7 separate regions of the Homo sapiens genome follow, and all the other regions are reported to be linked to region 1. The links are microRNA targets in miRTarBase. Many come from high-throughput screens and were not tested one by one. Region 1 holds a microRNA gene; each other region holds the end of a gene's coding sequence.
The links. Region 1 holds the annotated microRNA hsa-miR-1228-3p (UCACACCUGCCUCGCCCCCC, at 2,992-3,011, shown strand). A microRNA usually pairs through its seed, bases 2 to 8, with sites in the 3' UTR of a target mRNA and lowers its output. Matches are read on the target gene's strand: a 7mer-m8 pairs with bases 2 to 8, a 7mer-A1 pairs with bases 2 to 7 and ends in A, and an 8mer does both.

Region 2: miRTarBase lists IL1RAP as a target of hsa-miR-1228-3p. The part of its 3' UTR that is shown has no 7-base or 8-base seed match.
Region 3: miRTarBase lists SLC66A1 as a target of hsa-miR-1228-3p. Seed matches in the 3' UTR shown: 7mer-m8 at 3,369-3,375 and 7mer-m8 at 2,958-2,964.
Region 4: miRTarBase lists FBXO47 as a target of hsa-miR-1228-3p. The part of its 3' UTR that is shown has no 7-base or 8-base seed match.
Region 5: miRTarBase lists LRRC38 as a target of hsa-miR-1228-3p. Seed matches in the 3' UTR shown: 7mer-m8 at 2,142-2,148.
Region 6: miRTarBase lists IPP as a target of hsa-miR-1228-3p. The part of its 3' UTR that is shown has no 7-base or 8-base seed match.
Region 7: the mRNA of MRPL10 is a reported target of hsa-miR-1228-3p. Seed matches in the 3' UTR shown: 7mer-m8 at 2,966-2,972.

Annotation. Positions count from the first base shown.
Region 1 is chr12:57,191,564-57,196,219 of GRCh38, forward strand. It overlaps MIR1228 (microRNA 1228), which reads left to right and starts at 2,941; the gene lies at 2,941-3,013. It overlaps LRP1 (LDL receptor related protein 1), which reads left to right. Exons shown (of 89, transcript NM_002332.3): 45 at 1,282-1,407; 46 at 1,613-1,741; 47 at 2,003-2,122; 48 at 2,336-2,449; 49 at 2,791-2,940; 50 at 3,014-3,136; 51 at 3,422-3,538; 52 at 3,708-3,836; 53 at 4,095-4,217; 54 at 4,300-4,440; 55 at 4,524-4,656. RefSeq lists an enhancer at 997-1,496.
Region 2 is chr3:190,648,149-190,651,148 of GRCh38, reverse strand. IL1RAP (interleukin 1 receptor accessory protein) reads right to left here. Exons shown (of 12, transcript NM_002182.4): 12 at 1-2,811. The coding sequence ends at 2,444. Among named protein-coding and RNA genes, the nearest start is that of LINC02013, 50 kb to the left of the region's middle.
Region 3 is chr1:19,327,422-19,332,077 of GRCh38, reverse strand. SLC66A1 (solute carrier family 66 member 1) reads right to left here. Exons shown (of 8, transcript NM_001040125.2): 8 at 2,778-3,506. The coding sequence ends at 3,435. Among named protein-coding and RNA genes, the nearest start is that of SLC66A1, 17 kb to the right of the region's middle.
Region 4 is chr17:38,932,686-38,937,341 of GRCh38, reverse strand. FBXO47 (F-box protein 47) reads left to right here. Exons shown (of 11, transcript NM_001008777.3): 11 at 52-910. The coding sequence ends at 167. Among named protein-coding and RNA genes, the nearest start is that of LASP1NB, 9.4 kb to the right of the region's middle.
Region 5 is chr1:13,473,083-13,477,738 of GRCh38, reverse strand. It overlaps LRRC38 (leucine rich repeat containing 38), which reads left to right. Exons shown (of 2, transcript NM_001010847.2): 2 at 1,640-2,766. The coding sequence ends at 1,893. Among named protein-coding and RNA genes, the nearest start is that of LRRC38, 39 kb to the left of the region's middle.
Region 6 is chr1:45,696,601-45,701,256 of GRCh38, reverse strand. IPP (intracisternal A particle-promoted polypeptide) reads left to right here. Exons shown (of 9, transcript NM_005897.3): 9 at 1,067-2,546. The coding sequence ends at 1,291. Among named protein-coding and RNA genes, the nearest start is that of TMEM69, 11 kb to the right of the region's middle.
Region 7 is chr17:47,820,579-47,824,577 of GRCh38, forward strand. It overlaps MRPL10 (mitochondrial ribosomal protein L10), which reads right to left. Exons shown (of 5, transcript NM_145255.4): 5 at 2,694-3,880. The coding sequence ends at 3,627. OSBPL7 (oxysterol binding protein like 7) reads right to left here and starts at 1,216. Exons shown (of 23, transcript NM_145798.3): 1 at 1,088-1,216. RefSeq lists a silencer at 1,179-1,394 and an enhancer at 1,505-1,674.

The DNA of each region.
Region 1 (4,656 bases):
CATACAAACACACACCCCACACACACATCGCACATACCACACGCACCCTACACATACCACACACACACATCCCACACATACTACACTACACACACCACACCACATACACACACCACACCCCTCCCACACACTCAACACATACACACCACACCATACACACCCCCCACACACCACATACACATACACCCCCAACACATACACACACATACACACCCCACATACACACACCACACATATCACATGCACACCCCACATATACCACACCACACACATACCACACACACACCACACACCACATACACACCACACATACCACACACACCCCACACATACCACATACACACACCACCACACACACTACACATACCACACACACACCACATACACACACCACATACACACACCACACATGACACATACACACCACACATAGGACACACATACACATGCCACACACCTACCACCCACAACACACATCACACACACACCACACAGCACACACACACACCACACACCACACGTACCACAAACATGCCACACACACACACACACATCTCACAGACATACTATAAACACCCCACACCCCACACACCACACCCCACACACACTTGCCTGGTCCTGCTCTCCCTGGGCCTCCATTACACAGACACACACAGCTGTACACACCTTTGGAACCGCAAAACCCCCAGTGCTCCTGTACCCCTTCCCACCAAGGCATCTACGCACACAGATGGACTCTGCACACGCCTGGCATCTCCTCCACGTTGCACACACACATTCATGTCACACCCGCCCCTCAGGGCTCATCCATGCCCTCGGTGCCCCTACCCTCACCCTGGTCACTCTCCTCACTTGGAGCCACACAGACAGCCGAGAGCCTGGGTGCACGTGCCCTCAGTGGGCACGAGTACATGCCCCAGCGCCCCCCACCACAGACCTGCAGCTTTCCCAGGTGTCTCCCATGCGCCCTGGGGCTCACTACTGCACCCGTGATCTCAGGGCCCTCAGACTCGAATCTCTCAGAAACACTCCTCAAAGCCCACGGTGCCCTGCCTAAAAGCACACACATCCTCAACGGCACACCTGCCGAAAACCCCATGCACCTGGCCCTCCCACAGCAGCCATCCCCATGCCCTCCCCACTGGCTGCAAGCCGCTGTGCCTGCCGTGACTGAGCAGAGGCTTGGGAGCTCCATGAAGTCAGTGAATGGGTGGGTGCACTCTGGGTGCATGCACAGCAGAGAACACTCTCCAGCCCTGCGCCCACCCTGTCCCTGCTCAGGTGAACTCTCTCCATGCCGAATCAACAACGGTGGCTGCCAGGACCTGTGTCTGCTCACTCACCAGGGCCATGTCAACTGCTCATGCCGAGGGGGCCGAATCCTCCAGGATGACCTCACCTGCCGAGGTGAGAGAGGCGGGGGGGAGGGGCTGGCGGGGAACCCAAGCACACACCAGGGATGGTGACCATCTCCCCTACATGCTCCAGCCCAGCCCCCCAAAGCCTTTTGCCAAGAAGACGCTGATGATGACCTCAGCTCCCCGGGGGAGGAGGCGTGGGCACTGGGGCCCACAGCGCTGGCTCAGAAAGCTCCCTCCACCTCCCTCCCCAGCGGTGAATTCCTCTTGCCGAGCACAAGATGAGTTTGAGTGTGCCAATGGCGAGTGCATCAACTTCAGCCTGACCTGCGACGGCGTCCCCCACTGCAAGGACAAGTCCGATGAGAAGCCATCCTACTGCAGTAAGGAGCCCCCTGCAGCCCCTGCCTCTTCCAGGCCCAGAGCCCAGGTCCTCCTCCCCCAGGCCCCTGCAGGATGGAGCAGGATCAGGACCCAGCTTCCTGACCATGAGTTTTGGGAGCTCATGAAGGGCAGAACCACTGTTAGCCTGGACTGGGCCTTTGGGTTTGGGGGTGGCCAGCTGGACACGTGCATGACGTCTCAGGGAGGCAGCCCTTTCCCTGTGCCTGTGGCTGACACGCAGCCTACTCCTCCATTTGCAGACTCCCGCCGCTGCAAGAAGACTTTCCGGCAGTGCAGCAATGGGCGCTGTGTGTCCAACATGCTGTGGTGCAACGGGGCCGACGACTGTGGGGATGGCTCTGACGAGATCCCTTGCAACAGTGAGTGAGGCGCACTGGCATAACCCATCTGTACCTCAGTTCCTGCCCCACCCCTCCCTGGCCAAGCTTTGTCCCTGGGCCCCGTGGTGTCTGGTTCAAGGCACTCTGTGACAGGCCAGGGCAGGTGCTGTGGGCCAGGAGCTCTGTCCTGCGTCCTTCTGGCCCCCACAGAGAAAACTCTGGCCTGACGATACGGGGCGGGCACTGTTCTAGAGACAGCCTGTGGTGTGGGCGAGTTCCGCTGCCGGGACGGGACCTGCATCGGGAACTCCAGCCGCTGCAACCAGTTTGTGGATTGTGAGGACGCCTCAGATGAGATGAACTGCAGTGAGTGACGCCCTTTGCTGGCACCTCCTGGGCTCCTCCCCATCGCTCACTGCATCTCCCGCCTTCAGGCCCTCCTGCACCTGCCCACATTCCTCTCTGCCTTCCCTCATCCCCGCTGACAGCCTCCATCTCCCTGAGGCCCTGTCCCCATCCCGCTCCTGCTCCTGGGCTCTCGTGGGGTTCCGAGAGGGGGCAGTGAGCAGATGGTGCAGACAGTGCCCCACCAGAAGGGCACCGTTCAACTTTTGGAAACACATGAAGGCTCCATAGGGCTGGCAGCTGCCCCAGTCGGGGGTGATCCAGGGGGAACCAGGTATCACCCTCACCCCTGCCCCCACCAGGTGCCACCGACTGCAGCAGCTACTTCCGCCTGGGCGTGAAGGGCGTGCTCTTCCAGCCCTGCGAGCGGACCTCACTCTGCTACGCACCCAGCTGGGTGTGTGATGGCGCCAATGACTGTGGGGACTACAGTGATGAGCGCGACTGCCCAGGTGGGCGGGGGCAGGTGTGTGGTGGGTGGTGGCCTGCGGTGAGCAGGGCCCTCACACCTGCCTCGCCCCCCAGGTGTGAAACGCCCCAGATGCCCTCTGAATTACTTCGCCTGCCCTAGTGGGCGCTGCATCCCCATGAGCTGGACGTGTGACAAAGAGGATGACTGTGAACATGGCGAGGACGAGACCCACTGCAGTGAGTGACCACTGCACCCACTCAGTGCTCCAAGAGCCTGCTGGGCCCCACTTCTTAGTCCCCCCCAGCAAATGCCCCCTTGGAAAAGGGCATCCAGAGCCTTCAACCCCCTGCCCCACACCCCAACTCTTGAGGTCAGACTCAGAGACTCTGCCTCTAGCTGCTGCTGAGCCCCCCCACAGAGGGGTGCTGTGGGCATCTCTCCTGTCCTTCCCATGGCATCAGCCTCCCCAGGTGGGTGACCCCCACCCTTCCCCATCTAACTGTGGCTTCTGACTGCCCCAGACAAGTTCTGCTCAGAGGCCCAGTTTGAGTGCCAGAACCATCGCTGCATCTCCAAGCAGTGGCTGTGTGACGGCAGCGATGACTGTGGGGATGGCTCAGACGAGGCTGCTCACTGTGGTAAGGAAGCTGGGATTGGGCCGGGGGAGGTGCCCCAGGGAGGGACAGACCCCACCCAACTCCACCCCACACACAGACACCCCTGCAGACGACGGCGAACCATCACCTCCACTGCTAGACCTGATCTACCCGCTCCTAAGTCTCTCAGTGGCCCTCTCTCCCCCTACAGAAGGCAAGACGTGCGGCCCCTCCTCCTTCTCCTGCCCTGGCACCCACGTGTGCGTCCCCGAGCGCTGGCTCTGTGACGGTGACAAAGACTGTGCTGATGGTGCAGACGAGAGCATCGCAGCTGGTTGCTGTGAGTGGCGGGGCCACGTGGAGCGGGTGGACAGCAAATGGCCACAGTCTCACTTTGCAGATGGGGAAGCCGGGGTGCAGGAGAGGAAATGCCTCAGCGGGGTCCACTGGGGGCGGAGCCATAGCTGTAGCCCAGGTGTCCAGACTCCTCATCCAGTGCCCTGCCCACTCTACCAGGAGAACCACAGGAGGTTAGAGTGAGGGACGGTCGGCCGCTGGCCAGGCAGGGCTGAAGGGCTGTGTCCACCTCTGTCCACAGTGTACAACAGCACTTGTGACGACCGTGAGTTCATGTGCCAGAACCGCCAGTGCATCCCCAAGCACTTCGTGTGTGACCACGACCGTGACTGTGCAGATGGCTCTGATGAGTCCCCCGAGTGTGGTGAGCCTTCGGCGGTGGTGGGAGGAGGCCCTGCCCTCTGCCGGGCCAGGGCATCAGCCTCACAGGTCCATTCCTCCCCCAGAGTACCCGACCTGCGGCCCCAGTGAGTTCCGCTGTGCCAATGGGCGCTGTCTGAGCTCCCGCCAGTGGGAGTGTGATGGCGAGAATGACTGCCACGACCAGAGTGACGAGGCTCCCAAGAACCCACACTGCACCAGCCAAGGTGGGCCCCAGACCTGGCTCCCCTCTGCCCCCTCCCCAGACTGCCTGAGACCCCGCTGACCTGCCGCCTCCGCCCCTCCGCAGAGCACAAGTGCAATGCCTCGTCACAGTTCCTGTGCAGCAGTGGGCGCTGTGTGGCTGAGGCACTGCTCTGCAACGGCCAGGATGACTGTGGCGACAGCTCGGACGAGCGTGGCTGCCACATCAATGAGTGTCT
Region 2 (3,000 bases), not on the chromosome of region 1:
TCTTGTTCTCTAAATTATGTTTCCCCATTTCCCTTGAATGTTCTCTATTGGCCATCTTCTGGAACATTAAAAAAAAATCTTGAAACAAATTCTCTTGCAATGATACGTATCACATAAACTTGATATGCTTTATATTACAGCATTTGTAAAATTAAGTACCAAAGGCAGGCATATAAATAGAAAAAACATCAAGGTATTTCTAGGGGTGCCCAACAGCATTTGGGATAAATATGGAATCCAAAAGTGCAAAAGGAATGCAGCATTGGCAAGAGAATGGTCCTTTGGTGACTAGACTATTCCCTGTTTGCCTAAAGTTTATGTAAGAATTGATATTCAAAGCTTATCTGGAATAAGTTCTTTTCTGGTCTAGTAAGTGAAGGGTTAATAGAGGGAGTAATTGTGGTTTCTAATAGGGAAAAATATTAATAAGGCTAAAAAAAAGTAGATCCAAGAATGACCTACTTTTCTACTTTTTTCATCCAAGTGAAACTTTTTTCAATTTAAAATAATCAATAACACTTATAGAGGGAAATGATTTATTATGGGTACTTAAATATAGGATATAATTTTACATTTGTTCATCAACATTCATGTTACCGGGATAAGGGCTTTCTTAAATTACGAATTATTCTGTTTCACAGGATACCAAGATTCATTTACAGTTATATTTGTTTCCTTTATCACTCAACAGTTCAAATAGTTGAGCACTGAGGTTAACATAGCTTAGTTTCTAAATGTGTCTGCTGGGAATATAGTAGGAAATCAATTAATGCCCGATGGCTGGCTACTGCTTAGCAGTGACCATGGAAGCTCTGTGCACAGCAGATGCCACTGCAACCTAGATAAACTGTAGCAATACTTAAGTTATTTATATAAACTTAGGGAAGGCAAGAACTATGACAACTATCACTCTGTGAGCTGTGAATTAACAAATAATATGTACAGAAAACACTGACACAAAAACATTCCAGTAAAAACATAATTTAAAAACTGGACAAGAGTTCCAGTGGTTTTTAATATTGTACCCATAGCTATTTAAAGTCATATACATACACATACACACACACAAATTATATATATATATATATTTCATGTGCATGTGGATTTATATACACAGATATATGTAATGTATGTGTGTGGATATGTATATATATAATTTGTGTTTGTGGAGATATAAGATATATATCTCATATACACGTGTGTATATATATGTATAATCTACATGTAACATAGATATTTACCACTCTGTAAACTCTGCACTTAGTTTTCCAAGTCTTAAAAACAGCAAAATATTACTGAAAACAAACAAAACAACTTTCATTGACAGTGACTTCTCATACTGACTTATTTGGAGCAAGTATATTTCCTGCACTAGTGAATAGGTGACAGGAAATACAGTTAATTCTCTTAGAATATTAATGCCAAAAGCAACTCTCAAGGCCACTAAGACTGACCTCCGCCCTTTACAATGGAGCAACAAAAACGAGTGAGAAAAAATCACTTTCCCAGTATTCACATTAGCAAGGTTAAGACTTAAAAGACAAATTGCCAAACATCCTTTTCTGTGCTCTTTTCATGAGTCAGAAAAATGCCCTAAAAGAGTCTTTCTGTTACCTCCCTCTCTATAGCACCATTAGGAGATTTCTTTCAGACTGAACCTAGTATGGAGCCTCCTGCAAACTCTAAATGAGCAATGCGATATAAGCAGATAGGGAGAAGGAATGAAAAAATGTGGGTTGACCTGTGGATAATCAGGAATTGACTGGAGCAAAAACAAAAATTAAGAAATATTTTTCAAGTTTACATAGATTTCATAAATTACCTGAGATGAGGACAAGGGTGGTATAGAAGACAAGTCCTTTAAATCAATTAAAAGAAACATTTTCAGTTACACTGCTTTGTATCATCCTAAGTGGATGTCAGTCTTGCTGTGGTTATGTATTATACAGCCGAATGAGGAAAAAAGTTCATTATCCTCAGCTAAAATGTAGGCCTTGATTATCTTTTCAACGGACGAGTAAAAATAAGATAAAAAGAAAACTATACTCGGAAACTCATGACCCTGTCAACAGTGACTTATTTTAAAGGCATATTTAAATTCATAGGAAAGGCTGCTCCATATGTTAAGATTTTAAAAAGAATGGAGACATATAAAAACAGGGATAGACAATGTAGAAGGGGAAATTCGCATTGAACAAGTCTTTGCCTGCAAAGAACATAGTGGCATCAGAGACTGGTGACAGAACGTTGATGATATCTTTCTAAACTTTAGTGTTGCCTGAGGAAGCAGAATAGTCAGCCACACAGTCACCCTAAATTTATCCCTATTGGGAGGCTTAGACCATTATTTTTGCCTATGAAACCATAAACTGCGAATGAAGACTGGGGGGACTCTTTCTTCCTGGAGCACCCCTTGTTCTTTTTACCCTTTTCATTATTCCTTTCATACATTTTTCAAAGATGAATACGAGAGGCCCTGCTCATCACTGCTAGACCGCCTGGGACTTTTCTTCACTGGCATGGCCACCTGCAGCTGCTTCCAGAACCTGCCCTGTGGATACTTGGATTTTTCCCCTTTCCATTTAATGACCGTGAGCACCGTCTTAGCCCTCTTCAGCTCTTTCACCTTCGTTTCCTTCACAGCTTTGTACTGTACTAAAATGACGTTGATGTTGCCCCGAGAGGCCATATTTTCTAGGCCAGCCTTGAGCTCCAGGAGGGCTTGGGTTCCCTGGAGCACGTAGTTGGGGCTTAGAACAACCAGGAGGCGTCTGCTTTTCTGAATGAAGCTCAAAGTCTCATCTGTGACAACTGGGAAAGAAAACAACCATGGGGATTAGTGTTGGCCAAAAACTCCCCAAAAGCATTGAGGCTTGAGGAGCAAATGTAGGGAACTTAGGGTACCAGCCTAAGAATTGAGGTGAAACATTTTACCAGCAAAAATGTGAACAACTTAATCCTTATACCTGCAAACTCTCTTTGTTAAATACCACTGTCTTC
Region 3 (4,656 bases), not on the chromosome of region 1:
GGGAGAGGAGACTCAGGTTTGGATGAGCTGCAGGCCAGGTGCTCTCTGAAGGTAGGGGCTGTATCGCCTCCATCACACAGGGCACTCCCCAGGGGGAGGGGCCATGTCTTCCCCATCAGATTGGAGGCCTCCTGAGGAAGGAACCATAGCTCCTGCCTGAAAGTGCTATCACCCCAAAAGCTGGTGTTTCCCAGGAGGAAGGGATTATGTCACCCCATCAGAGAAGGGCCTCCAAGCAGGGGCTATGTTATCCCATCTCACTCTTCCCCACCCGGCCCCAGTTCAGGACCACACTTGGGGCTCATGTGGCTATACTGTGCCCCCAGATCTTCAGGCTGGAAGGGCACCTACTGGTCCCAGGTAACTGGTGTGGAGCCAGGTCCCAGACCCAGGTGGAGCGAGACATCTAGCTGGCACCTGAGGCAGGCACAGGCCAGGGCAAGCTGGGGCTTCGGGCCTGGGGGTAACTTATCCTGAAATCTCGGCAGGGCCAGAGGCTCAGCAAAGTCGCTATTCAGGATGGTGAGAAGGGAGCCTGGGTCCAGCAGGGTTCGGGCCACTCCTGAGGGTGAAGCTGAACTGCCACAAGCCATGGGCCCCCAGCAAGGATGGAGGAAGGGGACACGGGCCGCCAGCGTTGGCCAGGTGTGGGGTGGCTCCCAAAGCTGGAGGGTCTCGTGTTGCTGCTGCTCCTAGCTGGGCAAGCTGCTCAATTGTGCTGAGACTGTTCTCCCATCTGTAAAATGGCCATAAAAATACTCCCATCTTGGCCGGGCGCGGTGGCACACCTGTAATCCCAGCACTTTGAGAGGCTGAGGCAAGCAGATCACCTGAGGTAAGGAGTTCGAGACCAGCCTGGCCAACATGGTGAAACCCCGTCTCTACTAAAAATACAAAAATTAGCTGAGCGTGGCGGCAGGCGCCTGTAATCCCAGCTACTTGGGAGGTTGAGGCAGGAGAATCGCTCGAACCCGGGAGGCGGAGGTTGCAGTGAGCTGAGATCGCACCATTGCACTCCAGCTTGGGCGGCAGAGCAAGACTCTGTGTCAAAAAAAAATAAAAACTCCCCCATCTCAGAGCTGGCTGTGAAGACGGGGAGATCTCGTGCACTGATGGCAGGCGGCGCAGCCCGCACATGGCAAGTGTGCAACTAACAGCTGCATGCCAGATGGCATCCTGGGCTCCGTGGGTGTCCCCTAGGGGGACAGGGCAGGGGAGACTGGCCCTCTCTGCCCACCTGGGTCTCAGAGGTGTGCCTTGCCTCCTCTCTCTAGCAAAAGGCTCTTCACCCGACCAAACCCCATCACCTGCTGCTGGGCTGCTGCTGGGTGTGCCCCAGGACCTTGTCCTTGGCATTGGTGTGGCTTTCAAGGCTCCTTGTAAGCAGCCCCACCTTGGAAGCACCCGAGACACCCACCTCCAGGCCTCTGTACCTGCCCCTCCCTTTTCCTGAACTGCCCTCCCCTCTGCCTTCAAGATCCAGCTCAAAGGCCACTCCTCTGAGAAGTCCTCCCTGATTGACCCTCCTGGGGCTGGTCTCATCTGCTCATTTCCTGACATTTCTACCTTCTGGTCATGGTAACCATCTCCTCTCCTGGAAGGCAGGGCCTTGGAGCTGGTTCACCACAGCCCCGGTGTCTGACACAGCAAAGGCTGAGTGGAGGGCTGTGCTCACAAAGGATCTGCGGCACCAGAATGGCCATGGCACCGTTTCCCTTCTCCGGGGCTGGGAAGGGAGATCCTAAAGGCAAGGCCCACTCTGGGACGCAGCGTCTCTCCCCAAGACTACCCCACCAGATACCCCAAGTCCCTGGTTCTGGTTTTCCACAGCTAGGGTTGGGTGTGTGGGGTGAGATCAGGCCAACAAGGTGGGGAGCTGGCGTCTCTGTGCTCCAGGCACCTGAGGGTCATGACCCCCAGGAAAGTGGAATCAGAACAGGGTCTGGAGCCAGGCATGGTGGTGCTCATCTGTAGTCCCAGCTCCTCGGGAGGCTGAGTGGGAGGATCCCTGGAAGCTAGGAGTTCGAGGCTGCAGTGAGCTATGATCGCACCACTGTACTCCGGCCTGGGCTAAAAAATTTTAAAAATAAAACAGGGTCTGGACAACACTGAGTTTGCGGGTCCAGGAAGCACTCGGAGCTCAGCTCTGCCCTCCTCTCCACTCTCCCACCTTGCTCCTGTACCCGCCACTTCTTCCTCCTGCCTTCAATCCTCCCTCTTTCCCTGTGATATCTCCCGCTCATCCTTCTGACCTATCACCTCCTCCAGGAGGCTCTCCCTGATCTCCAAGATCTGGTTGCTCCTCTTCTCCAACTAAAAGTCCTCAAAACTAACCTTTATTGAGCCCTTACTATGCGCCAGATCTGGGGCTAAACTCCATAATGTCAGCATCTTATGTAATCCTTGAAAGGACACAGGAAATGACAGTACTGTCCATTTCACAGATGAGATAAGCTAGGCACTGAGGAACTGCGATGGAGAACCCAGATCCAACAGAACCTTAACCATTCTGCTTCTTCCTGAACACCGAGGGGCAGGCTCCCCGTGGGGAGTCACTCTCCCTGCTATGTCCCCACAGTAAGGTGTGGGGCCTGTCAGGAAAGGGCCCGGAGAAGCAGGCTAAAGAAACCAGAGGCCCCAGGAGGCTGGGCCAGGGCTGCAGGCAGATGCGGTCCCCTCTGCTCAGCTCGTCCTGAATCCCCATCCACATCCACCGCTGGTCCCCAAAGCAGCCCCGATCCCTCAGCACCTTGGGGAAGGAGCAACAGAAGCAGGTCTCATGGGGAGGTACCGTTTCCTCGGTTATCTTTTTTATTTTTTTGAGACGGAGTCTCACTCTGTCACCCAGGCTGGAGTACAGTGGCACGATCTCGGTTCACCGCAACCTCTGTCTCCCAGGTTCAAACAGTTCTCCTGCCTCAGCCTCCCAAGTAGCTGGGACTACAGATGTGTGCCACCACACCTGGCTAATTTTTGTATTTTTAGTAGAGATGGGGTTTCACCATGTTGGCCAGGCTGGTCTCGAACTACGGACGTCAAGTGGTCCACCCGCTTCGGCCTCCCAAAGTGCTAGGATTACAGGTGCGAGCCACTGTACCCGGCCTGTTTATTCAGTTGTCTGGAGTTGACAGGACAGTCCTGAGTCCAGCAGGCTGTGGCTGTGGCCCCTGGGGTGAGTAGGCAGAATGAGGTAGGTGGTAGGAGGGGCAGCCTCACTGTCTCCTGAGAGGCCCTGGGGTCTCCGCTCCAGCCCCGGCCTTGAGGCTTCGGGGTCTACCTGAAGGTGTGTTCCTGGGGGGACGGTTCGGTCCACGGAGGATCCAGAGGCCACCCGCAGGCTGATGCAGGGCCGCCGTACCATCACTGTCCACACCTCCTCCTGCCTGGTGTGGCATCCGGTGGTGCCTGTCCTCCTGCGCTCAGCCTGGTTCTGGTCAGCTGGGGAGGAGGGGCTCAAGCTCCGAGGCGGCGGTGCTGCGCCTGTACACCAGGAACTGGATGGAGATCTGGGGGTGCCGCCGTTAAGGCCAAGCTGAGCAGAGACTGGGTTGGACCTGCCCCTGGGGGCCTTCGACTCCTGGGAGCTGCCTCCCTCTCCCCTCCCTCCCACCCCCACGCTGCAGGTGGGAAGGGCCAGCCATAACCTCCCAGCCGCTACCTTAGCTGTGCCCTCCACTCAGAACTTCTGCCCGGCTCCTCAAGCCCTAGCCAAGCTCCATCTGTCTCCAAGCCTAGCACTGACTTCTCCTTCCCGTGGGCAGCCTCCCTTGACCCTGGCCCAGGATCTTCGCTTGCTCTCAGCTGTGGCGTCCTGGAGGCTTCCAGGTGGCTGGGCCGTTTTGGGGCACAAGAGCCTAAACTTTCACCCCTCCCTGCGCCCGGCAGGGACTTAACAAATATTAAAACAAAGGCCATGTTTACTTGCTCCGAAATGAGACCCAGGTAACGCTCTTTACAGCCATTCAGCAAACACTTTCTGAGCCCTCACTGAAAACGGGGTCCTGTGGGGAGTGTTTCCAGATACCTCATCTTACACAACATCCTGACGAGACAGTGGCTGTTAACTGAGGTGAAGACACGGCAGCACAGAGAGGTTGACTGTGTGCCCTGCGTCACACAGCTAGGAAGCAGGGGAGGAGCCAGGATTTGAACCCAGGTTTGTCTGACCAAGTCATGTGTCTCTCCACACTCCAGCTCTCGTCTGCACAGCCTAGAACATTCCTCTCCTGCCTTCGCCTGACTTCTCCTACTCTGTCAAGTCACAGGTTCAATGAGACTTATAGGGGCCTTTGCTGCCCCTCTAACCAGGACGGTCCCTGGCTAGACGCTCTTGTTGTTTTTCTCTGCAGCACTTGGTGCCACTGCAATGAAGTAATTCTTTGATGATAGCGTTGTGTCCTCTCTGCGCCCCGCTGGGCTGTAAGCTTCTGGGGCACTCATGGCTGTTCTTGCTCACTCACGGCTCCAGGGTCCAGCTGGGTGCCTGGCACACAGGAGGTGTGCACGACTGGGTGAACAGATGGAGGGAGGGAGGGAGGGAGGGAGGGATGGATGGATGGACGGATGGATGAAGGGAGGAAGAGACGGATGAGTGCTGACGCTGTGTGCAGGCAGAAGCTTCCTTGCCCACACCCCGCCACCTGCCCCACACGCCCT
Region 4 (4,656 bases), not on the chromosome of region 1:
ACTTAACATTTTAACTGTCATTTTCTTTTCCCCACTATGTATGGCATATAGGAGACCGTGATGAAGATGACAGAAGCTTTTTGAATTTGTTCCATCTTGTACATGCTCAGGCTAACTTCCATAAGGAGGTCCTGTATTTGACCATGAATACTCCTCTGTCTACCTAAATCCTCAGAAAGCCTTGCCTTTAGAGAACGTCACTGAACGAATGATTAGAGGAGTGCTACTTTTTCACTCAAAAAATAGCATCCATGGGACTTTTTATCATCTAAGTAACCTAAGAATTCAAAAGCTGGATAGAATTTTAGAAGCAACTACGTACATCATTATTAATATAAAAATAACAGGCAGCCTCAAGAATGTGCTGAGATTTCTCTGGAAAACAAGCTCTGCCTCTCCGGGTTTTAGTCAACCTAACACCAAACCAAAATAGAATGTTAGCTGTTCAAGAATCTGGGACCAGCCAACCTGTATGTATGCATTTTTGAAGCAAGAGAAAATTCCATTTTATAGTTAGACCCAAATTCACTAAATAGTGTGTATGTTCACTTTGTTTAAGTTGTATAGACATAGCCCAGAATGTTTTGTGAAGATTTGCAATATGGTGTTTTGGAATGTGTAGAATACAAATCACAGTTTTTACTACCTTCTTGGCATATGCTTACAAAGAACATTATATTTTGTTCATGTTTTACATGAACTAATGGATAAAAAACAAAGTATACATATATGTCTATATATATATATAGACACACACACACAGACATATATTTCCTTCTTTAAGGTAATCATACAAAAGGTCTATACATACAGGAAGGTATATATTGTCTCAATGCAATCAAATCATCTTTTACTGGGGATTCAAATAAAATGTAGCAAATAAGAGAAAAATAAAATGAAAGAAAATAGCGATTCTGCTGCCAGAATAATCTTTACAAATAGTTTTTACTTCTTCCTAAAGCTTTTCTCCCTATCTTAAAAAGTGAGATTTGTCTGGGCACAGTGGCTCACACCTGTAATCCCAGCAATTTTGGAGGCTGAGGCAGGAGGATCCCTTGAGTCCAGGAGTTGGAGGCTGCAGTGAGTTATGATTGTACCATTGCACTCCAGCCTGGTGACAGAGTGAGACCCTGTTTCTAAACAAAACAAAACAAAACAAAACAAAAAAACAAGATTTGACAAAGGAAACTAAACGTATGGGTGGTTTACAGCAGCCCATGAGAGAGTGGGGTTCGGTTCTCTTCTCTCAAGTATATAGATTCCAAGAAGCTGCAGGACTGTTTCAGCCTGACTAGCATCTGCCACTCCTGCTTTTACTTTTACTATTAAAGTAGATAGTAACAGTACTTGACAGGGCTGAAATAATGCTGGAGTCCTCCTGGATCTCCCATCCCATTTTTTTCTCCTTGGGTTTGAGCACTTTACTTCTGAAGACACATTGCTTCCACCTGGACTTCTCAGAGGCTGGCCTTCTTTACCCAAGCTCTTGATTTAACTCACCTTTGGAGCTGATGAAGGAAAGAAACACTAGAAGATATGGAAAGTATCTGCAGAAGTAGGGGGTAAATTGTGGGAAATTCTCAAATGTTTGGTAAGAGGGACTCAGTGAGAGATGAATAGGACTGAGGAAGAGTGAAAATTGTGGAGAAAATACAAATTGTGAAAACAGGATTTTATTGTACTTCAGTAGTAAAGGCACTTACCTTCATTTCTGGAAGGTGAGAAGTTTAACTGTCTTTCTTAGATGGATTTTCCAACTGTAATTCCATTGGTGGCAGGAATTTTTTTCTCCAGTTTTTCATTAGCATATTTATGCAAAAACAAAGTTCTTGCTTTTATCCTGATTTCATTTTCTTCTTCTCAATGTAAGAATTCACCTTCAGTTGAATTATAAATGGAATTGAATTACAAAGATTAAAAGTTGGCAGATACCAGAGTATAAAATAATACCTTAGTTTTTTCATTTTCCCCTCTCTTTTTTCCTATACATGCTTGCAAAGCATAGATCTATCAAAACATTGATTATTCCAAGTTAAGAATATACCTCTTCAACTATCTGTGAGGGAAAGAAAAAATAAGGAAAAAAAAGTAAAATATTCAAATATAAATAGTGAATTTTTTTTTTTTTTGAGATGGAGTCTCACTCTGTTGCCCAGGCTGGAGTGCAGTGGTGTGATCTTGGCTCACTGCAACTTCTGCCTCTCTGCTTCATGCTATTCTCCTGCCTCAGCTTCCCCAGTAGCTGGGACTACAGGTGTGTGCCACCACACCCGGTTAATTTTTTTGTATCATTAGCAGAGACAGGGTTTTGCCATGTTGGCCAGGCTGGTCTCAAACTCCTGACCTCAGGTTATCCACCTGCCTCAGCCTCCCAAAGTGCTAGGATTACAGGTGTAAGTCACCATGCCCAGCAATAGTGAATATTTTTAATATTTTACTAAATGGATTCTAGATTTCATTTCCTTAGAGAAAGAAATTTGGCATTGTAAAGTTTCCTTGAATTCCTTGAATTATCCATCTCCACAGCAATTATTTTTAGCAAGTTTACAAAAGAAGCATGTAAAACATATTTGGTCTGGGTTTTGAATCTTCTTTATTCACTTGAACTGACATGACTGCTGCTGTAATTAAAAAAAAACCTCACATTATTTATTTCATTATTCTCAATAATTGTGAGATTATTATATCATCTTACCAAAAATTTGGAACATAAAAAGTTTGATTCATTCTTTGGGTGCAGGAAATAAACTGTGTCATTCTGCCACCAATAAAAAGCAAGCTGACAAATTGTCCATTCAATTGTTAAAACATACAAATAACATTTATGACCAAATTTGGAGTTTTTTCAATTCAGTGGTCCATTCTTTTTTGCCGAATACCTTTGTCATGAAGAATAAAGTGTAATGTCAAATTTTAAAGGGGAAATTAACTTTTAAAAGCATATGTTGTTATTACCATTATTATCAATGTTTAAGTGATGGTATAGGCAGTCATTGTCACAAAAAAAGAGCATTTGGAAAATGAATAGTTTAAAAACATTAGGAGACTGTCAATTTCTCACTAACTCTGGAACAGTCATAACAACATAACTATGTAAAGTACTAACAAGTCAGATAATTTAGCCTGTACTGTTTTTTAAAGTAGAAGATTGGCTGCTGGGCGCGGTGACTCATGCCTGTAATCCTAGCACTTTGGGAGGCCGAGGCGGCAGATCACAAGGTCAGGAGTTCGAGACAAGCCCGGCCAAGAGACCAGCCTGGCCAACATGGTGAAACCCTATCTCTACTAAAAATACAAAAATTAGCCCGGCATGGTGGCGGGCGCCTGTAATCCCAGCTAGTTGGGAGGCTGAGGCAGGAGAATTGCTTGAACCCAGGAGGCGGAGGTTACAGTGAGCTGAGATCACGCCATTGCACTCCAGCCTGGGCGACAGAGCAAGACTCCGACTCAAAAAAAAAAAAAAGATTGGCCTAAATTAGCAGACCTGGGGGCCCAGCTCCTTTTTCGTTTTTGTAATGCTTTCCTCAGCCTCCTTTGACTTTGATTTGTAGAATGATTTTTTACTCCCTGTAGAAGGCAAGTTCAATAACACATTATTATCTTTATCTTTATTATTATGTCTACAGACACCATGCACCATAATAGTACTAACAAACTAATGATGCTATCTTCCTTAGAAACTAATTGAAAATGTACAACTTGTGATAAGCTCTCTGTATCTTGTGAAACTATGAAACTTTAACACTTTTTTGGAGGACTCCTGCTCATGCCAATTATGAGATACCCAACAGAAGGTGCAGCTGGAAATACCATCTTATGTCAATGAATAACAAACACTAACCTCTTTGTGATTATTACTAAAAGGTTAACCTCCTTATGCAAATAGTACTCAAATGTATGATTACAGATTTTTATGTCAATAAATATTGTGAAGGGTAAAAATAAGGCTATTACAAAAGCCTCTTTGGTTATTGGATATCTTACTAACAACGTGACTTCTGTAGCACTTCCACTAGCAGGTAACTGTGAAACCTGTAAGAAATCAGGATATGGACATATGCTCCTTGGTTTTTGAGGCATTACTAAGCTAGGAAAGGTGACCTGAAAGATAGCTGCATTGAACAGTCTTCTCCAGGTTAAAAAAGAAAAAAAATTCCAAAGGACTAAGATTGCATTCTTTTCATCAAGAAAACAAATATATTGCATTTAAGGGCAAGATTGAAAAAAAAAAAAAGAAAAATATAACTCCAGAAAATTCCTCAAACTAGAGACTGAAAAAAGAACCCCACAAACCGCAACAATTTGGCCTTTGAAAGACTCTTAAATTAAAATAATAATAGTAATACTTGTAGACATTCTGAGATCACTGCTTTCTTAAAGGTGCGTATAACGAAAATATGCATTGCTATTTCAGAAGTATTCTTTTTATGGTAAATTTTCTTTGATACTAAATATTTGATATTTGCTAAATTTTGTTTATTTACTATATTAATAAAACTATGTTAAAATTGAAAACATTCCATCTTGTTCAGAGTTTGTCATTATGCAAGTCATTGAGCTTTTTGTGGGGGAACTTACCTTCATTTAAGCTGTTAATTATAGCTCTACCATGATCAAAAAAATGAAATGTCTTAATATAAATTAATATTGTAATTA
Region 5 (4,656 bases), not on the chromosome of region 1:
AGCCTCCTGAGTAGCTTGAACTACAGGTGTGTACCACCACACCTGGCTAATTTTTAAAAATTTTGTAGAGACAGGGTCTTGCTATGTTGCCCAGGCTGGTCTCGAACTCCTGAGCTCAAGTAAGTCTCTCATCTTGGCCTCCCAAGGTGTTGGGATTATAGACATGAGCCACCACACCCGGCCTTTTTCCCAGCTTCTTGTCTCTGCCTAGAATGTTCTTCTCATGGCTAGTTTCAGCTCATCCTTTTGACCTTAGCTGAAATAATACCTCCTGACCACCCCTGTTAAAGACAATTCTTTGTCCCAGACTTTCTTTATCTTTCTACCCTGACGTTTCATCCTAAACATTTTACATGTCTTGAACTATTCATTTATTGTCTAAAATGTAAGCTAAATGAAGGCAAAGGCTTTGTTTTGTTTCCTGCTGTATCCCCAGGGCCTTGTACATGGCAAATACTAAAAAATATCTGTGGCATAAATGAATGTCTATATTCTCGCACTAGAATTTAAACTCTCTGAGAGTAGAGGACTTAGTTGCCTTGTATATCACCAACCCGGTTGTTGGCCCAGGAGAAGTACAAGTTCAAGTCTGGGCAACATGGCGAAATCCATCTTCAATACATTCTTTTTTTTTGAGATGGAGTCTCGCTCTGTCGCCCAGTCTAGAGTGCAGTGGGGCGATCTCAGCTCACTGCAACCTCTGCCTCCTGGGTTCAAGTGATTCTTGTGCCTCAGCCTCCTGAGTAGCTGGAATTACAGGAACACACCACCATGCCCGGCTAATTTTGTATTTTGTATTTTTAGTAGAAACAGGATTTCACCATGTTGGCCAGGCTGGTCCCGAACTCCTGACCATGCTAACCCTCTTTTCATTTCCACTCAGAGGACAGTGAAGAGGAGGATAGTATCTAAGTTGGAAAGTGGCACTACCAAGTGGAGGGTCTGTCCGCTAGTTGGCACTGACCCATCCCACTGCATCTGCCCCAACCTCCACTCCCTGCTACTAGTCGGGTCTGGATTAGGGTCTACAGATGTCCTAAACCCGAAACAGATAATGATGCCCTTCCATCCCCGCTCTGAGTAATTCAAAATCAAAAGAGTAATAAACCTGGCTGGGTGCAGTGGCTCACGCCTGTAATCCCAGCACTTTCAGAGGCCGAGGTGAGCAGATCACCTGAGGTCAGGAGTTCAAGATCAGCCTGGCCAACATGGTGAAACCCTGTCTCTACTAAAAATACTAAAATTAGTCAGGTGTGGCGGTGCACACCTGTAATCCCAGCTACTTGGGAGGCTGAGGCAGGAGAATCGCTTGAACCCGGGAGGTAGAGGCTGCAGTGAGCCGAGATCACGCCATGTTGCCTAGGCAACAGAGACTCCGTCTCAAAAACAAAAAACAAAAAACAAACACCTGAAAATAGGTCAGTGAAGACCAGCACGTTCCAACTTTTCCCATGGTGATCACTCTAAGGCTTTTTTTTTTTTTTCAAGTTTAAATTCCATTTAAATTAGCCTTTTCCCCCCTTTTATTTTTGGGAGGATGCTTGCACATTGCTGGCTTTGTAAGCACCTGCCTTGTCAACTTTTAGGCAACCTTGAGCTGCAGTCTAAATCTCTCTCTCCTCTGCCTGCCTTTTCTCAGGCCTTGATGAAATCCAGTGCTCCCTGCCCATGGAGAGCAGGAGGATATCCCTGCGTGAGCTGTCGGAGGCCAGCTTCAGCGAGTGTAGGTTCAGCCTGTCACTCACAGACCTCTGCATCATCATTTTCTCCGGTGTGGCCGTGTCCATTGCGGCCATCATCTCCAGCTTCTTCCTGGCCACTGTGGTGCAGTGCCTCCAGAGGTGCGCACCCAACAAAGATGCGGAGGATGAAGACGAGGACAAGGATGACTGAGCCACCTCCTCCCTCCTGCCTCTTACTCTCCAGCACCGAACCAGAAGCTCTCTCCAAGACGAGAGGGAAATGCTGAAAATGGAAAAGCACTGGCCACCATCTGTGAACTGAACAGAGCCTGTTCCGTGTCTTGGCCCCTGGGTACACCTGCTGGGACCACTGATCTCAGAGTTTAGAATCAGCAGAGCACAGAAGCCCAGGAAGGATGGAGGGAATTATTCCTGGAGCATAACCTGCCTCTCAGATCGAGGTGTGTGTTGGGGGAGAAGATGACCGAGTCAGGCTTCATAGCTGATGACTAAAAGCCTCCCCCAGGAAATGTGAAGACTGGCAGCTTTCAATGGCAAAGATGATTTTACGCCATTCTTTTTCTGACCTGTACTGGGAGATCATGAAACATCTGCCTTCCTCCCAAGAAACAGCAGCTCAAACAGTGGAGATTCAAATTCGGATCATTCACCACAAGAACGAGAACTTTGATCCTTATATAATAGGCCTCAGCAACCTTGGGATGTTATACTGGGAACTAATAAACTCGTGTGCAATAGACTCAATGTTTATGTTCCCCCAGATTTTATATGTTGAAACCTAATCCCCAATGTGATGGTATTTGGAGGTGGGGCTTTTGGGAGGTGATTAGGTTTAGATCATATCATGAGGATGGGGCCCAAATGATGGGATTAGTGCCCTCATGAAAGGTGGCCCCAGAGAGCTCCTTCACCCCTTCAATGCTTGAGGATGCAGCAAGAAATCAGCTGCCCATGAACCGAGAAGCAGGCCCTCACCAGAACCCAGCCATGCTGGCACCCAGATCTCAGACTTCCAGCCTCCAGAACTGGGAGAAATAAATAAATGTCTGTTGTTTGTAAGCCACTCAATCTCTGGTATTCTGTTATAGTGGTCGAAATGGACCCATGAAGAAGCTAACAACTGGTCAGAGGGTGTCTGTTGTTAATTTTGGTAAGCTGGTTGGGAAAACTTTGACTTGACATAACTCAAACCCTGATCTTTATCCTAAGCGGTAGCGACTTGTAGAGGAAGGATTAGTTGCTTTGTACAGTTGTGATGGTCTCTCTGCTCAGCATCATTTTTCCTTCTGAAGGACAGACAGGTTGTTCCCCTCCATCACCCGCTTCCTGAGTTCCTTCCCAGCTACTCTCTATGTCAGCACAGTTCTCTATCTCCAGAACTTTTGGTAAACTTGCCTGGAGGCCAGTATTCCAACCAGCATGTTGCACCGGATCAACCAAATGCTTAAAAAACAAAAAAACAAAACAAAAAACACTGGGACTTGGGCTCTGAAAAACTTCCATCAGTGGCCCTTAGGGTGTATGTGACATTGCTTTGGTGCACAGGCTATGACAGGCACCAAAAAAAGTGTTTTCCAGGATGTGGAATGCAGCACTTTGGTTCAGAGACAATATGAAACAAACAAGTCTTACACCCCAGTGGGTTAATACAAGATAGCTTGTGCTAGCAGCATTGGATGAGGCTGGGGGCTGAGACTTGGATGAGGGCCTCACACCAGCTCTCGAGATATTTTTGAGAATCGTTTCTCCATTGTTTCCTATCATATATTCCTGTTTCTTTCCTCCATTGCTCCCTTCCATCTTTGCCCTCATAAATAGCTATTGAGTGCTTGAGTGCCAGGTACTGGTCCAGGCACTGTGGCTATGCTTTGGATAGGAAACACAGGTTCCCTGCTGTCTTGTGCTTTATATTCTTATGGGTAGAACATAAAACAAACAGGGAAACAAAACTACCATTGCAGGCAGAGATAAGTATCATGAAGGAAATAAGCGAGGTCCTTTAACAGAGAGTCACTGGGAGAAGACACTCCAGCGGAGGTAGTGGGGTGTGTTAGGTTTCTCCAGAGAAAACAGAACCAACAGCAGACAGACAGACAAAGAGATTTATCGTAAGGATTTGGCTCAGGAGATGATGGAGGCTGAGAAGTCCCATGATCTGCAGTTGGTGAGCTGGAGACAGGACAGCTGATGGTGTAGTCCCAGGCCAAGGGCAGGAGAAGACTCAGCTCAGCAGTCAGGCAGAAAAACAGTGGATTCTTCCTTCCTCCACCTTTTTGTTGTATTCAGGCCCTTACTGGATTAGATGAGGCCCGACACACTGGGGAGGGCCATCTGCTTTACTCAGTCCACCTGTTCCAATGTTAATCCCATCCAAAAACACACAGACACACCTGGAAATAGTTCAACCAAATATCTGGGCACCCCATGGCCCAGTCAGGTTGACACAAAATTAACCATCACATCGCAGAAGGCCTTTGATTGGGTGGCTTTTGGGCTGAATCCTGCTTCCCCCTTCTCCCGCCTCCTGACCTCCTCCCTTCTTTCCTACTCTCCCACTCTTTTCTCCCCTTCAGCCTAGAGGAGACTCTGGGTCACCCCTCTGCTCCCCAGCATTGCAGTCTCCAGTGGAGGAGACCCCTGGCTCAGGAGGGCTACCTTCTTACAGAGACCCTGGGCCAGCGGAGAAGTGAGTGGCATCTTCCAGGACTCCATGGCAACCTCAGCTCCTGTGAGAGCCCCATCTATGGTCTCTGACCCTCAGTGCACATACTGCTCCCCCTGTGCAAAACAACACAATCTAAAGTCAGCACCTCCCCAGCCTGGCCCCAGATTCAGCTGAGAACTACGTGGGGTTGGAATTGCTGCCATGGCCCGCTCTCCACCTCAGGAGCACCACTACCTGAGACTCAAAGGCATGAACCCAACTGGGTTTTGGCCTCCACCAAAGTCATAA
Region 6 (4,656 bases), not on the chromosome of region 1:
AGCAGCACATTGAAATTTCTTCAGGGAATGATGTATAACAGGAGTTAGCAAACTTTTTGTGTAAAAGCCCAGATAGTAAATATTTTTGGCCTGTGGGCCATACACAATATCCTTTTTTGATATATGCTTTGTCTTTTTTTAAAAAATACCTTTTAATATGGGAAAATCATTGTTTGTTCTCAGGCTATACCAAAGTAGACTATAGTTCCCAACCCCTGGTTAGCCCACCTTTTTGAAAATATGTTCTGCAGATTACTAACTCCACTGGATGCTCCTTGTAAAAAGGATTCCATGGTCAAATAAATTTGTCAGGTGTTCCATGCTGTGTCATTCTCTTGGACATTTTTAAGACTCATTAAAATACTAAAGGCTTTTAAAAAATCCTTTGGTTTATAAGCTTCTTTCTCCTTGGAGCTTTGTGGTTCTTTTGTTTTTATTTGCTTATTTTTGAGTGTATTACCTACTTGTATTCCATAGACTTTGTTTCTTAGAATGTTGTCCTGTGTATGAGTTCTAGGTCATTTCCTGATCATGTTTTATAATCAGACCTTTTAAAAAATTATATTCCTCTAAATTTACTTTGTTCATGCCCACTTCAAGTTTATTTTAAAATATTCTGGGCCGGGTGCTGTGGCTTACACCTGTAATCCTAGCACTGTGGGAGGCTGAGGTGGGACAATCACTTGAGTTTAGGAGTTTAAGACCATCCTGGACAACATGGTGAAATTCCATCTCTACAATAGAAAAATTAGCTAGGTGTGGTGGTGTACACCTGTAGTCCTACCTACTCAGGAGGCTGAGGCAAGAGGAGCTCTTGAGTCTGGGAGGTTGAGGCTGCGCTGAGCCGAGATCGTTGCTGTGCATTCCAGCCTGGGTGACAGAGCGAGACCCTGTCTCCAAGGAAAAAACAAAGCAAAAAAAAGAAAAAAAAATCTGTATGCTTACCTGACTAGATAGTTTTACATTTAAACATGTAAAAAGAACTGGGATATCGAATTTCTCAGTGGATTTCTTTACTATCATTTCATAACACTGCTAACATATTTTTTTTTTCTCTCTTAACCAGGAAAAGTGGGTTGAAGTTGCCTCAATGAAAGTGCCTAGAGCAGGCATGTGTGTTGTGGCAGTCAATGGTCTTCTGTATGTTTCTGGAGGTCGATCTTCCAGCCATGATTTTTTGGCTCCAGGTACCTTGGACTCAGTTGAAGTTTATAACCCTCATTCAGATACATGGACAGAAATTGGTAACATGATCACCAGTCGTTGTGAAGGGGGCGTTGCTGTGCTATGAAATATAAAGCATAACAGAGCACAAGGAACATTTTGAAAATGCAGGACCTGACCTTTTGCAAAGCAAACATAGATTTGGTGATAAGACCCTCTGATTCTGTGAGTTTTCCATGTATTTGGTAGATAAATGACTAACGAGGCTGGGCGCAGTGGCCTCATGCCTATAATCCCAGCACTTTGGAAGGCTGAGGCAGAAGGATCACTTGAGCCCAGGAATTTGAGGTTGTAGTAAGCTACGATCATGCCACTGCACTCCACTCTGGGCAACAGAATGAGATCCTGTCTCTTAAAGAAAAAAAATAAACTCAAGAATGATTTTTCTAAAAATATGAGTGAGAATGGATATGGAATATATCCCAATTAATAAAGAGCTCACACAGATTTGCCAGGTTTACTAATAATAGAAATGCCATTTATGCTGTAGAATTCTCCAGTTTAAGTGTAGACAACTCCTATTTTACAAATTTGTAGAAATTATTTACTAGAAGCTTCCTGGCAAATAGTCCCTTTAGCTACTTCTCCAGTGCAGTATAAATTGTAACATAAAACTTTATGTGATATAGGAATAGTGTCAATGACACAGTTTAAAGACCTCTATATTCACAATTATATCCAGAGCATAATTTTCCATGGCCATAGTTTGAGCCACAGAGAAAGCCAATGAAATAGATTCCTACTTTTATTTAATGCCAAGAGTTTTCACTAGCCCCAAACTTTTTATTGGCAGCAGATATCCTAGGAGGGGTGTTTGGGAAATATCTAGCTATTTTAATAGATAGATACCTTTTTGCTTGATGATAAGTTTTTGCTTGCTCATATTTTTTGTCTTGATCCTGAGAATGCAAGTAAGGAATTAATAGGAGGTTCTTAGTGACCAGATGTTGTAATGGGCTATACAGTCCAGCAGGCAGTATGCACCTAGAAATTTCTCCCTTTTTTAGGCTGGGCATGGTGGCTCACACCTGTAATCCCAGCACTTTGAGAGGCCGAGGTGAGACGGGAAGATGGCTTGAACTCAGGAGTTCGAGACTAGCCTGGGCAACGTGATGAGACTCCGTCTCTACCAAAAAATATATAAAAATTAGCCGGGCGTTGTGGCTTGTACCTGTGGTCCCATCTGCTTGGGAGGCTGAGGTTGCAGGATCACTTGAGCCCAGGAGGTCAAGGCTGCAGTGAGCCAAGATTGTGCCACTGCACACCGGCCTGGGTGACAGCATGAGAACCTGTCTCAAAAAAAAAAAAAAAAAAAGAAAAAAAAATTCTTCCTTTTTTGCTAGATTGTTGTCACCAAAATTATCTGTTTGGCTTTAGGAAGAGGGAATTTTATTAGATTATCAAGCTTTGTAAAATTTATTTGTACTTGGGCAAACCTAAGTAAGAGCATACTGCAAAGCTACTGCTTGGATGTAGAGGGCTAAATTGTAGGTACTTCTGAAACTTTTTATAGATACTGACTCATAAGTGTAATTTGAAAGTACCCCTTGACCCAAACAAAACTGCTTCTCAAAACTTCTCATTTTCTCCCTGAGAAGCATTCTAAAGAATTGTTCTCTGTTCATTTCTAAGAGAAAGATTTACTGGGTGTATGATGCGGTTACTTTTAAGTTATTTCTACTGGCCAGTTGGAGCAATATATATTAAAGGTCTTGCATACAGTAAAAAAAATTTTTTTTTGAGATGGAATTTTGCTCTTGTTGCCCAGGCTGGAGTGCAAAGGCGTGATCTCGGCTCACTGCAACCTCCGCCTCCCGGATTCAAGCGATTCTCCTGCCTCAGCCTCCCAAGTAGCTGGGATTACAGGCGCCCACCACCATGCCTAGCTAATTTTTCTGTATGGGGTTTCACCATGTTGGCCAGGCTGGTCTCGAACTCCTGACCTCAGGTGATCCACCTGCCTTGGCCTCCTGAAGTGCTGGGATTACAGGCATGGGCCAGCGTGCCCGGCTGCATACAGTAAAATTTAACTAGTTGACTTAAGGATTTGATTTCCCGTTTCTTTTTTTTTTTTTTAGATGGAGTCTTGCCCTGTCACTCAGGCTGGAGTGCAATGGTGTGATCTCAGCTCACTGCAACCTCTGCCTCCCTGGTTCAAACGATTCTCCCGCCTCAGCCTCCCGAGTAACTGGGATTACAGACGTGAGCCACCATGCCTGGCTAATTTTTTGTATCTTTAGTAGAGACGGAGTTTCACCATGTTGGCCAGGCTGGTGTTGAACTCCTGACCTTGTGATCTGCCCACCTTGGCCTCCCAAAGTGCTGGGACTATAGGTGTGAGCCACCGCACTCTGCCGATTTCCCATTTCTTTGCTAAGGTCCTTCAGTATATTACTATAAGCATCATCAACTTATTTAGATAGAAAACTTTTAATTGCATTAATGAATTAGGTAGCACTCATATCCAAATTATTTGGTTTAGGCCGGGCACCGTGGCTTATGCCTGTAATCCTAGCACTTTGGGAGACTGAGGTGGGCAGATCACTTGAGGTCAGGAGTTCAAGACCAGTCTTGCCAACATGGTGAAACCCCGTCTCTACTAAAAATACAAAAAATTGGCAGCAGGTGGTGGTACATGCCTGTAATCCCAGCTGCTGAGGAGGCTGAGGCAGGAGAATCACTTGAATCCAGGAGGTGGAGGTTGTAGTGAGCTGAGATCATACCACTGTGTTCTAGCCTGGGCCATAGAGCAAGACTTTGTCTCAAAAAAAAATAAAACAAAAAATATTTGGTTTAGTCTACAACTATACCTTCCTTATAACTTAACCATATGCATTTATTAGGAAAAGTTTATGTAATGCAGACAGGAAGCTCTATGTTCCCTTCTCTGGGGCATCCTGAACGTCTGAAGGGTCACAGATGTCTGTGTAGAGATCTGTAAGATGTCAAAGAATAAAGATAATTTATAGACTAAGCTATAACTCATGTGCCTTTACTATTTCTAGTTACAGAGAATCTGTATTCTGATTCAAAACAGATTTACAAAATACTTCTACAACTAATTTCTCATTGTCTAGTAGCAACTGAAAATGACACTTTGAAGGGGTGTGCTTTGCACAGCTGTGGCAGAAATGTAATGTCAAGGCAGTCAGTGTTTTAACAGGTCCCGAAGATCCCTGAAAATAGGTGACTGTAAATATGCTTATTATTCCTAGGTAATGACAAGATTGGTTTTGTTTTTGTTTTTGTTTTGAGATGGAGTTTCGCTCTTGTTGCCCAGACTGGAGTGCAATAGCATGATCTTGGCTCACCGCAACCTTTGCCGCCCGGGTTCAAGCGATTCTCCCGCCTCAGTCTCCTGAGTAGCTGGGATTGCAGGCATGAACCACGAGGCCCAGCTAATTTTGTATTTTTTGTAGAGGTGGGGTTTCT
Region 7 (3,999 bases), not on the chromosome of region 1:
GGTGCCCAGGGAAAACCACAAGACATATGCCCAGCCCCGCCTTGGGCACATACTCTGGGGCTCCAAGAAACATTCAGTGCTTTCTTTAGAGGCTTCCCTGGGAGTGCTCAGAGGTGAAGCAAGGGAGTGACAGAAGAGGCTCCAAGAAGAGACAGAGGGGTTCAGAGACTGGACAAGCGAGACCTCCTCAATCCAGCTGCCTCTGCCTTCAGGACCCCTCCACCCTGCCACCGTAGCTCAGAGACTTCTCTGCCATGATCTTGCAGAAAACTCCCCAGCCTCCCACCAATTAATCTCCATATTATCTAGTGCTTGGAGAAACTGAGGCCTGAGATAGCCCCCATTTTCCCATGTCTCCTCCCACCAAACATGCCCCTAGGATGCCCTTTTTGGACCCTCAGTACCCCCTAAAGCCTCACCATCCCCTGTCTACCCTCACAGTCCTTGGGGCTCTGAGAAGTGCCACCCACCCAGAGAGGGCAGGACATTGGGCTAAAGGAGATACTTCATGAGAGAAGAGGGGGCCCAGGACATGCCCAGGTCTGCACAGGTCCTGCAGCAGTGCCCACAGGCACCCTTGGCACTGGCCCTGGCCATCCTGGCTCCACCGGGAGATCAATAATGCATGAGGCTCTGCATGTGTGAGACGGGGGAGGGGACTGGAGGGGCGAGGCTGGTTTGAGGTGGGGGAAGCAGCCCAGATCTTCTAATGGAGCTAGCAAGCACCTGAGGAACTGAGGCCCAGAGGGGACAGGGATGTGGCAGGAACGGGTGCCCAGGAGGTTGGGGCAGAGGGACCCTTGCTGCAAGAGGCTGACCTGGGAGGAAACTCCTGCATTCAGCCATTGAAAGTTCTCAAACTCTTCCGGTGTTCAGGTATCTCTGGGCCCTTCTCCCGGCCCTGTGGGGATCCTGGCCCCTCACTGCTTGTGGGTAGAGGGGGAGGCTCTATCGGTAGGCAGGTGAAGGGTCTAGGTGAGCCAGGTGGGTGCCCCCTCTCCACCTCTATTCAGGAGCAGACCCACCAGCTTCAGGTGGGAGGAAGCTCTTCTCAGGAATGTCAGCTGCTGCCACGCAGCCCCCTTACCCCAGGGTCCATGGACGCCAGTACTCCTTGGCCCTTGCGCCGCTCTGCCTCTGAGTCACCGTCTCCGAGTCACCGGCTCCCTCCTCACCGCGCTGAGCAGTGGCAGCAGCTGCTGCAGGAACCAGGAAGGAAGGAGATGTCAGAGCCTCCCCTCTAGCCGGATCTCCCCACCTCCCTCTCCCCTGTCCCCTCCTCCCGCCAAGCTCCGGGCAGCCGCTCAGCTCTGCCCCCCTGCTCCCCGGAGGACTCAGGGCTGAGCAGACTGCCCTAGCATCGATGTGGCTTGGGAGTGGGGGCACAGTCCCTGCTGGGCATGGTTCCAGATAGATCAGAGGACTGGGGAACTGTTGGCTGTACGCCAGTGGTGATAAAGGATTTATTCAGACTAGCATGGCAGTGACCCTGTTAGTACCCAAGGCCAATTCCTAATTAACCCCCGCCCCCCGCCTCTCATTTTACATCTGAAAATAGACTGCAAAATTTGGAGCCAGCAAAAGTATCAGGTTGATGGTGGAGGGACAGATGCCCCCTCTGGGACCATAAGAGAGTGCCAAGAGCACAGTCAGCAGGGGCAGTCAAGCCAGGAAAGGGACAGCCAGCAGTCCCCACACTGAGGCCCTTCACTGGGGTGATGCCCCACTAGGTCAGGCCCCATGGAGATCTGAAAGTGCTTGTGTGTATGAAGACACCCCACAGCCTGCAGTCTCTGATCAGGAGCAGGCCTGGGGCAGTCACAGCTGCCGTTAAAAGGGCTGCAATGCTGGTCCCCTCCCTTCCCTTTACCCTTCTGCTGGAGTACTGTGCCCAGCTGCTCAATTCTAATGAAAAATCGGCTCTTAACAAAGATCTAAAATTCATTCAAATGAATGTGGCATAGACCTACAGTTTCAAGCGCAGCTAAGTTTTCTGGAAAGAAGTAGGTGGGGCCTCAGGTGAAGGATGTGATTCAAGTTTCTTCTCTGACCCCAAAAGTGACATGGGCCACTTATCCCTTCCACTTCATCCTCACCGAGCTTGGTTTACGTTTCAGGGTCTCACATATCTCTCGGGAACACCCACTGTCTTGCCTTTATTCAGAGCCTCAGTGCTGCTCCAGCCACCCCAGGAGGAGGGTGTTGTTAGCACCTGGCAGGGTTCTGGGAGGGACAGGAGCACTGGGCAGCACTGACCAGACAAGCTCTGGCATCCAGGAGCCTCAAGGGCCTTTTAAGCCACTTCCCAGTGATTGAACATCCCTGGGCATACAGCACAGGATGAGGCACTGGGGGAAGCTGGTCCTGGCCCAGGCCACAAAAGAGCTGCTGCAGGTCATCCCTGCCAGACAGTGCCTGTCCAAGACTAAGGAAGCGGTGGCATTGCTTCAAGTCCGAGAAGGAATGTTGAACAGCCACCTTCCCCGGGTCACCCCTGCATCCACCCAGAATGTGCTCCAGTCAAGGATGATGGTGGACTCTGAGTTAAGCATCCCGTCTCCTTTATTAGGAATTTCTGGTTCATGAAGACTTGCATGAGGCCTCCTACCCTAGAGCTCTCAGAATTCCCCATTAATAGAGAATCCTAGTTTTCCCGCAGGCCTTTTGTCCAGAACCACCAGAGACACGTTAGCTAGTGGGTACAGCTGTCAGCTGCCTTTAATAGGGCAAGCATGCGCGGGATGCCATTTGTGGGAACAGGTATAGGGGAAGAGGATTTTCCTAGGAAGGGAAGCAAGAGTGAGGAAAGTCAGATGACAGAGAAGCCCCTGAGAGTAAGTTTAGAGGGAGGACAACCGTGTAAACCACAAAATAAAGGAAGTAGAATATATTTCATTTTATTATAAAGCAGTGCTCCCAAACTTTTCACAGCGTACACCTCGAGGGTGGAGAACTAACATCCAAGCACACCTGGATGGTGGATGGGACCCACTTCTGGGTAACCTGATGAGGAAGCTCTAGTGAAGAAATTCAGGACGCGGTCTTCAGAGCAGAGGGCTTGGTTCAAGTCCCTGTTCTGCCACTTACTAACTGCATGACCTTGAGCAAGCCACTTAATTTCTCTGCTCCTTCTCTGTGAAATGGGTACAATGTGGTCAGCAGTAAAGGAACTAATACATGTACAGCACTCAGCACAAAGCCTGGCACACAGCAGGCTCTCACCAGGTGCCATTCTCAGCACAACTGCTTGGTTGAGCTACTGTGGCAGTGGCAGGTTGTGCCCCAAGGGGGTGGGCTCAGGAGCCCGTGCAGCAAGAGGCAGTGACCAAGGAGGCAGGGGACAATAGCCCTATCTTTTCAGGATCTCTGCCTTGGACCTGGAGAATGGAGAGACTTTGCTCCTATCACGTCCCAAGTTGGGAAAACTAAGGACGAAGCCGGTGACTGACATCTGAAATGGAATCCTCTGCATCTCCAAGTGGCCCTATACCTGACAATATCATTACTAGTGAAAACCAAGTGACAAACACACTCCCCGACCCCAAGTTCTTCCACATGTCCCATTGAGGAGAGCACAGCCAATAACGCAGAGTGTATTTATGCGCAGGGCTGGCTAAACAGGCTGGCTACGAGTCCGGAACAGTGTCAGGATCTGGCTTCCCATTGGCCGACATGACAGAATCCTTCTCGCGTTGCTCTCTGATGTACTGGTCCAACAGGGTGGTCAGCTGGAGGGGCTGGTGCTGGAGCAGGGAGTGGGTCTGGGCTGTGAGGCAGGTGAGGCCTCCTACAAGCTCCCCCTGCACCAGGGGCAGGCTGGGGAGCTTGGAGTAGTTGATAAAGCCCTGCCTGCTGAGGATGGTGTCATCAATGCAGCCACCTGGAAGAACACAGGGTCAGTTAGGCTCCTTGCAGATTGCCTTTCTTCTCTGAAAACAATATTCTGACCCTAGTAACTTGCTCTCCATTGCCCTTCTCAAAATCCTGCCTTCCCCAGGA